Regions from separate parts of the Homo sapiens genome. Here region 2 is linked to region 1. The links come from fine-mapping of genetic effects on gene expression. A gene starts in region 1. The other region holds a variant in brackets. All regions are shown on one strand. Distances are from middle to middle.

The links. PIP is the estimated chance that this variant, and not a neighbour inherited with it, causes the effect.
Region 2: its variant is the best candidate, but not a certain one, in a credible set for the expression of PDCD6-DT in fibroblasts (GTEx, PIP 0.63).

Annotation. Positions count from the first base shown.
Region 1 is chr5:268,791-273,173 of GRCh38, reverse strand. PDCD6-DT (PDCD6 divergent transcript) reads left to right here and starts at 1,650. Exons shown (of 2, transcript NR_104613.1): 1 at 1,650-1,829; 2 at 2,967-3,618. PDCD6 (programmed cell death 6) reads right to left here and starts at 1,528. Exons shown (of 6, transcript NM_013232.4): 1 at 1,353-1,528; 2 at 402-463. The coding sequence starts at 1,453. PDCD6-AHRR (PDCD6-AHRR readthrough (NMD candidate)) reads right to left here and starts at 1,528. Exons shown (of 13, transcript NR_165163.2): 1 at 1,353-1,528; 2 at 402-463. RefSeq lists a silencer at 1,236-1,445 and enhancers at 1,736-1,825, 2,487-3,179.
Region 2 is chr5:252,876-257,258 of GRCh38, reverse strand. It overlaps SDHA (succinate dehydrogenase complex flavoprotein subunit A), which reads right to left. Exons shown (of 15, transcript NM_004168.4): 14 at 2,753-2,866; 15 at 177-925. The coding sequence ends at 839. Among named protein-coding and RNA genes, the nearest start is that of PDCD6-DT, 16 kb to the left of the region's middle. The variant G/C (reference allele first, on the strand shown) is at 2,513.

The DNA of each region.
Region 1 (4,383 bases):
CAACAATCACCCCCCAGTGCCCTCGAAGGTCTATTCAGAGAAGTCACCAAGATGCAGTCACCCAGGAAATTCAAGGACCTCCAACTTACCAAAAGGCTTTCGGCTGTACAGAGCTAAGCTTCCTATTCCCCTCCTAAACCTACAATCTAGTTTTCATTTCTCAAGAAGCCTTTCCCTGTGCTCACGCACGCAGTTGTTAGCTGGCTCGGTGAGGCACTCCAAGCAGTAACAGCGGTAGCCACAAAATAAACCAGAAGCATCTCCACTACGAAGCAGTAATAACAATTTGTCCTAATGATTCCTTTGTCCTTGGAAAAACAACTTCAGAAAGTTATCCACTGTGAACAGGGCAGGCTCGCGGCTTCTTGGTCCGGAGACCCAGTTCCCACTGGCCCACTCACCGTTGGAGAGAGCTTGCTGAAGCTCGGTGTCTGATATCACTCCACTCCTGTCTTTATCGACCCTATAACATCAAGAAGACCAAATAAGCTGGCGATCGAAAGTTCAGGAAAAGCAAAACAAACGTCTTCTGTCAACCCTGCACCGACTCTGGAAGGCTCCCTCCTGGAACCTCCGCCTCTCCCGTCCCGCTGAGGAGTACAGCGGAATCAAGGAAGTGCCCCAGGAGCCGACGTCCAGTGTGGTCTTCCCCTAAGAGGACAATCATCTTCACCTCAATCCTTCCCTTCCTTCCTCTCCTGGCCTGTCTGAATTCCCATTTGCACCCGTTTCCCTTTTTCACAGACAAGACAAGATTCCCTCAGATAACTAAGCCATTCCCTGGCCATCAGTCACTACAGTTTCGGACATTCGGTGGAAAAGCGACCAGGGACAGAAGGCGCCGCCATAAAGGTCACCTGGCCCGAGCAGACGCCAGGTCGCTGCTTCTTCCTTGGCTGCTGACATTTTAACAGCGCCCAGGCAGTCTGTTTCCGCTTTCCCCAAACAAGCACCCTGGAGACCCTCCACCTGGCGGCTCTTGAGGCGAGAAAAAGGGCCTAGCCCAGGAGCCGGTGGCCGCGACCTCGGGTCTGCAGTGGCGCACTCTGCATCTTGGGAAGGGCCCGACGCACAGGACAGGGACCGGGCAGGAGGCAGGGGCGGCCCCAGGAGACCGGGCAGCGGACGGGGGAGACCGCGGGGGACCCGCCAGGGGACGGGGGCGGCCGCGTCGGCTGGGGCAGGGGTCGGGGGCGGCGGCAGGGGACGGGAGGGGGCCGCGGGGGACCCGACAGGGGACGGAGGAGGCCGCAGTAGAACCGGCAGGGAACGGGGTTGGTCGGGGGAGTCGGGACAGGGGTCGGGGCCGCCGCGGCGGAGGCGGGAGGTGCCCGGGCGGTGCCAGGCCGCACCTCTGGAAAACGTTCCACAGGAAGCTCTGGTCCGGCAGCGCCGCGCCTGCAGCAGGCCCAGGGCCGGCCCCAGGGCCGGGGCGGTAAGAGTAGGCGGCCATGGGCCAAGGCACGCGGCTGGGCTGAGGCGCCTGCAGCGACGAGAGACCTCTCAGGCCGACTCCGCTTCCGCCTCTGCCGGGGGCAGGGCCTGGCATTATCACCACTTCCGGGGGCGCAGGAAATGCGTGGTCTCCGGGATGGTCACGGGGTCCCGCGCAGCCAATCCCCTCGCAGCTAAGTTGCCAGGCAACGCCCTGGCGCCTGCGGGGAGGGCGGGGTCTGGGCGCCTGGAGGAAGCCAGAGCTTTGGCGCAGGCCGCCTGCGCGCTGTGCCAGGAAAGCGCTTGGAGAAAATGTCCGGCCCCGCGACCTGGGACAGGAAGTGATGGAGCACGGACTTAGTTTGCCTTTCAGTTCTTGTATAAATAGTTTTGAGGTGAATGTGATTTGCTAACAGTCGGAAACTCTGGGCGGGGCGCGGTAGCTCACACCTGTGATCCCTGCCCTTTGGGAGGCGGAGGCGGGCGGAGCTCTTGAGCCCAGCAGTTCGGACCAGCCTGGGCAGCATGGATAGACCCCATCCCTACAAAAATTACAAAAAGTAGTCGGGCGTGGTGGGCTCCTGTGGTCCCATCTACTCCGTGGGCTGAGGCGGGAGGATTGCCTGAGCCCGGGAGGTCAAGGCCGCAGGGAGCCGAGCTCACTGCACTACAGGGGTGGACAGCGAGACTCTGCCAAAAAAAAAAAAAAAAAAAAGAAAGCAAAAGCAGGCCGGGCGCGGTGGCTCACGCCTGTAATCCCAGCACTTTGGGAGGCCAAGGCCAGTGGATTACCTGAAGTCGGGAGTTCGAGACCAGCCTTGGCCAATTGGGAGACACCCCGTATCTACTAAAAATACAAAACTAACCGGGCGTGATGGTGCACACCTGTAATCCCAGCTACTCGGGAGGCTGAGGCAGGAGAATTGCTTGAAACCGGGAGGAGGAGGTTGCAGTGATCCGAGATCGGGCCATTGCACTCCAGGCCTGGGCAACAAGTGCAAAACTCTGTCTCAAAAAAAAAAAAAAAAAAAAGTCAAAACACAATTCGGGTGGGAAAGGCAGTGTGCAGCATTCTCGGTTGTCTGTTCCGCCCCCAAAAGCTTCCCTCCTTTAGGTTTAACCTGCGCCCCCGTGCTCTGCATCAGCGCGGCCCCTGACCCCGTGCAGCTGGAAACACTGCTGGGCCCCTTCACACCCCTGCCTGCTGGGCCCCTTCACACCCCGGTGGTGGTGCAGCCCTGCCTCCCGCAAGACAGCACTGCCTTCGTGCTGGACACAGTTCTAAGGTGGAGCCTGGAGTGCCTGTAGCACAAATCCCGGAATTGGGAAGTGCCCAGCTTTGGGCCACTGTGATCCCTGGGTCTTTCCCACGCGCGTAGTCTCGTGCCGCCTTCCACCCCGGTCCTGTGTCCTGTGCCCCGGTTCAGAATACTACAATTATTCTCATTATTTCATGGGGTTATTTCAGCTTTTCAGTTTCTTCAGTGCCTCATTCCATGAATGCTAACTTTTTTCATCCTCATACTTCCTAGGGTTGTCTCTGAATTTTCACTCAGTTGTCTACCAAGATGTTGAATGGACCCAGAGCCAAGGACGTGGTCTTTTATCAGTGGCACCTGAGACTTTCTTCCCTGTGGACGCAAATCCATTATTCAGCACTCTGGGCACAGCTACAGATCTGATCAGCTATCCATTCTCCAAACTATCTCATCCTCTGTCCCATTTTTCTGTCTCTCTTGTCCACAAGGCATATACCTGAGAGTTTTCAAATTCCTCAGAGAAATTTAGATATTCTGTGGCTTTGGCATTCACCTAATGTGTTAATCTACAAACCTTTTTTACAGTGTGGATTTTTTTTCATGATGTGAATTCAAGTGGTTTCTAATGGTCTCTTCATAAAGTTGTAAACCAAAAGTAAAATTCTAAGGCCCCACCCCATCTGAATGGACCCCTTCTCTGGGCCAGGGCACTCCAAATTAACCTGAAAACCGTTCAGGCCACGACATGAAGTGGGGGCGGGTGGGACATGGCTGACTATGCCCTCCTCCCTTTTGGAATTCAGGGAAAGCCAACACAGACCTTAAGTCTAATGAGAAACACCATCTATTCTCTCTGAAGCCTGCTACCCCAAGGCTTCTTCTGCTGATAAAACTTTGGTCTCCACAACCTCTTATAACCCAGACATTCCTTTCTATTGGTAATAACTCTCAACTAATTGCCAATCAGAACATTTTTAAATCTACCTATAACCCAGAAGCCCCCACTTTGAGTTGTCCTGCCTTTCTGGACTGAACCAATGTATATCTTGAATAGATTTGATTGATGTCTCACGACCCTCTAAAATGCATAAAACCAAGTTGCACCCCAGCCACCTCCTGAGGTCTGTGTCATGGGCGTGGCCACTCTATTTGGCTCAGAATAAATCTCTTCAAGTATTTCACAGAGGTTCAGCCTTTTCATTGACAAAGTATTCATATCACTTGTTGAAGAATCCTTTCTAGAATCTTCCACAGCTCTTTGAGCTGTAGTTTCTGAAGTCCATCTTTATTCTCCCTCCCATCACTGGCTCCTGTTTTGTTCTCCAGAACTCTGAAAATACTAACAACTATGATTTTGTGACCCAATTTGGAAGTTCTTACAGGGAAACCTCAGCAAGAAACAGCTCAGTGCTAGACGCAGTGGCTCATGTCTATAATCCCAGTACTTTGGGAGGCTGAGGTGGGAGGATCACTTGAGGCCAGAACTTCAAGACTAGCTTGGGCTATTTTAAAATTTTTTAAAAGGGGGAGCATCTCAGTGACTGCAGCAGGCCTCAGCCTCCACTCCCAACAGTTAGTTGGGCTCTACCAACTGTTGGCCGAGTCTCCAACCTGGAGTACCACAGCCATCATCACCCATGGCACCCAGGAGTGCTCCGTCATGCTTTCCCTTTAGTTCTAGGGGTAGAAA
Region 2 (4,383 bases), 16 kb after region 1:
TGGACTGGTAACAATCTGTGGCCTGGGGATTGGGGACCCCTGATTTGAATAATCAAGGACACACTCACCTAGTAAACCGTCTGCCAAGAAAAAGGAGGAAATGTTAGTTTTCTCCATTCGTTCTCAGGCACCAACATTAATTTGAACTTAGAAATAAACTACAAGGCCAGGCATGGTGGTTTGTTCACACCTATAATTCCAGCACCTTGGGAGGCCAAGGAGGGAGGATCACTTGAGACCAGCCTAGGCAACACAGTGAGACCCTGTCCCTACAATTACAAAATAAATGAGCTGGGCATGGTGGTGCACACCTGTAGCCCCAACTACTCAGAAGGCTGAGTCAGGAAGATCACCTGAGCTGCCCAGGAGTTTGAGGCTGCAGTGAGCTGTGATTGTACTACTGCACCGATCCTGTCTCAAAAAAAAAAAAGAAAAGAAAAAGAAAAAAGAAACTATACAAAATATCTGGATTTTGATGTAACACAATACAAAGATTACATTTGATTTTTAGGTCAACAAATATGACTAAAGTCACAACAGTAAAATATTTCAAATGGATTTGGAAATAAAAGAAAGTTTGTTCATTTATATTTTATTTAAGAGCTGTGCCCAGTTTTATCATCTCACAAGAATGAAGCAAGGGACAAAGGTAAGTGCCACGCTCCCTGGCCACTGGGTTCCTGGCAAGCTCCCAGCCACTAGGTGCCAATCTCCCTTCAATGTACTCCTTCTTCCCCAGAGTGCAGAAGCGTATGAAGACAGTTATGACATGGACACATGCATGAGCTATTATACATAATTACAAAAGCTGATTCTGTCATCACCACATCTTGTCTCATCAGTAGGAGCGAATGGCTGGCGGGACGGTGGCACAGTCAGCCTCGTTCAAAGTTTTGTCGATCACGGGTCTATATTCCAGAGTGACCTTGAAAAGAAGAGTCAGTGGTAAGTTAAGCACAAAAATGTACAAAAAGCCATCTCTTGTGTTCCTTTTGAAAAATTTTAACTATAAAAGTAGATTTATGGCATGTGAACTTTAAGATTCTCAGTGCTTTACAAAAATGCTCCCATCATGTAAAGTGGGAGAACCCTTGTCTATACCAAGACACTTTATGTTTAAACCATCTACTTCCAGTTTTTCTACTTCAAAGTAAATATTTATATAGGTTGAACATCCCTAATCCAAAAATCTGAAATTCTCTAAAATCTGAAACTTTCTGAGCACCAGCATGACATTCAAAAGAAATGTGCTATGGAGTCAGATCTTCCGATTAGGGATGCTCAGACAGTAAGTATAATGCAAATATTCCAAAGTCTGAACAAGCCTGAAATCCACAACGCTTCTGGTCCCAAGGATTTCAGAGAAGGAATACTCAAGCTGTGTATTAAATATGCACACACAGGAAAAGGTAGGCACATATACAAAGAAATTTAAACCATAATGGGTCGTCTCTGGTTAGTGAGCTCTTATTTCAATCTCTTTGTACTTTCTAAAATGAGTATGTATTTCTTGAAAAATCACTAAAACTGGCTGGGGGTGTTGGTTCATGCCTGTTGGGAGGCCAAGACAGGTGGATCACTTGAGCGCAGGAGTTCAAGACTAGCCTGGGCAACGTGGAGAAACCCCATCTCTACAAAACATATAAAAATTAGCCAGGCATGGTGCCATGTGCCCAGGAAGCTGAGGTGGGAGGATCACCTGAGCCTGGGGGAGGTTGAGGCTGCAGTGAGACGAGATCAAGCCAACACATATCAGCCTGGGCAACAGAGATGAGACTCTATCTCAGAAAAACAAAAAAAAACCAAAAAACCCGAACCCGGAAACATTAAAAATAGACTTGTGCTAAGCGAGTGAAGTGTGATTTCTATACACTATCAAGAAATGGCCTTCATGAGAAGTCCTGAAAATGACCTACTGCCTGAATCACAGACACACTAGATGATAGTGAGAGTCCAAAGGTAACTTCCACAGACACAGCTAAGTGATTATACGACTCTTACAAGCTATGAAAAGTTTAAGGGTAAAAGCTTTCTATCTTCATTATTTCTGAATCTTAATGCCCAGCGGAAATGCCACACAGGTGAACTGTGCTTGTGTGGAACAAGGCTGCGACCCCCCTACCACACCCTCGGCTGGCTGTTCCCAGGACGCTGCTCACCGTGTGTGGAAAAAGGCTGCGACCCCCTACCACACCCTCGGCTGGCTGTTCCCAGGACACTGCTCACCCCAACCCCACCTCCATTTCTGCCCTTCTCTGCTTGCTCAGTGCCCAGGGGATGCTAAAGGCTGCACCACATCCCCTCAGCTCCCCTGCAGACGCTTCCAGTTGGCCCAGCCCGTGGGAGGAGAGGGGAGGTGTCTCTTCTGGGCTCCCTTAACGTGGGACTGGTTTCTGGTAATGGCTGTGTGTCCCCACCCCACAGATGCTTTCTCGCTAGGTCCACAATCATCATCTCCTCCCCTACCACCAGGCCTTGGACACTTGCTCCTGCCCAGTGACGTCCATCTGGC[G/C]CACACCACGGAGCAACCCTTCCTTAAGGCTCCTCTGAACCACCTGCAGGAACTGGATTCTGTTTCCAGCCCGAAGCCCGACTGCTGTCGGAGTGCCTTTTTCAGCGGTGCCTCGAATCTGTCGGGAGTTGATTTAAATCTGGCCTGCTCTTCCCCGTTCACCATCAGCAAGGCCAGCCCGCAGGCCTGGGCGGGGCCGTGTGGGTGCTGGGCTGTGGTGAGAACGAGCTCCACACTGACCTTCCCAGTGCCAACGTCCACATAGGACAGGGTGTGCTTCCTCCAGTGCTCCTCAAAGGGCTTCTTCTGTTGCCCCTGGATGGGCTTGGAGTAATCGTACTCATCAATCCGCACCTGAGGCCAGAAACACCATCACGTTTCTTATTACTCTAACAGAGCAATACAGAAAAAACACAGCAGACATTAACATGATCTAAGAGACAGATGCCCTAGAACTCATTCCATTTCCACTTCAGCCCAGGAGGTTGGCACCATCAACATGTTCAGAACCCACGGAGGCCGCATGGCTGGCCAGGGGGTGTGCAGCCAGCAGTGAGTCCACAGTAATCCATGTCCGCATGTTCCCTTAAGCATCCTTTATGTACCTAAGAGTTTATCAAATACTTTGTCTTTTTGCTCCATGTGCTGGGAGACTACCTCAATCTTTTCTTTCAGCCTGTTTTTATTAAAAAAAAATTTTTTTTTTGAGACAGGGTCTGGCTATGTCACCTGGGCTGGAGTGCAGTGGTGTGATCACAGCTTGCCGGAGCCTTGACTTCCCAGGCTCAATCAATCCTCCTGCCTCAGCCTCCTGTGCTACCACCACACCTGGCTCATTTTTTATGTTTTTGTAGAGACACGTTTCGCCATGTTGCCCAGGCTGGTCTACAACTCTGGGGCTCAAGTCATTGGCCTGCCTCAGCCTCCCAAATGCTGGGATTACAGGTGTGAGGCACTGCACCTGGCTTCTATTCTAATTAAAACTGACTGTGACCAACTAAATTTATGCACTGGCCAGGCACAGTGGCTCATGCCTGTAACCCTAGCACTTTGGGAGGCCGAGGTGGGTGGTTCACTTGAGGTCAGGAGTTCGAGACCAGCCCGGCCAATATGGTGAAACCCCATCTCTACTGAAAATACAAAATTAGGCATGGTGGCAGTGTGTCTGTAATCCCAGCTGCTTGGGAGGCTGAGGCAGGAGAATCACTTGAACCCGGGAGGCAGAGGTTGCAGTGAGCTGAGATCACGCCACTGCACTCCAGCCTGGGGGACAGTGAGATTCCTTCTCAAAAAAATAAAAATAAAAATAATAAATTTACTATTATTCTGTATTCTGGCAAACACGGATTCATATACTTTGCAGGAAACTCTTAATACATACAAGGAGACAAGAGCAAGTTCTGAGCAGTGATCACAGCCATCAGCATATTCTAGTGGAGGGTAAATCAGTAAAATTTCATGGTGAATAAAAATGATTTTCCCATTCACCATGTTCAGCTGACTGGAAAGGCTGCCACCAGCCGCCTACACACGGTCCTGAACCAGCCTGTGCGCCTGCCTTGTGGAGCCTTTGTCCTTTTGCTGATGTGGTTTATCCTGAACTTGCATTTGCATCCCAAGCTTCCCTTTCCGTCGTTTTTTGCTATCATATGGGAAAAACTCTTACCAGGCAGAATCCAACACGTGCGCTCTGCACAAAAATCAGTTCATCTGAAGAACAAGTGACCACAGGGCAGGCTCTATAATACCTTTTCCAAACCACAGGACAGGTCTGAAATGGTGGCTTACTCCTTATTTAATAAACTGGCATTTCCTCCACAGCGCAGGTCTGAAATGGTGACTTACTCATTAATAAACTGGCATTTCATCCA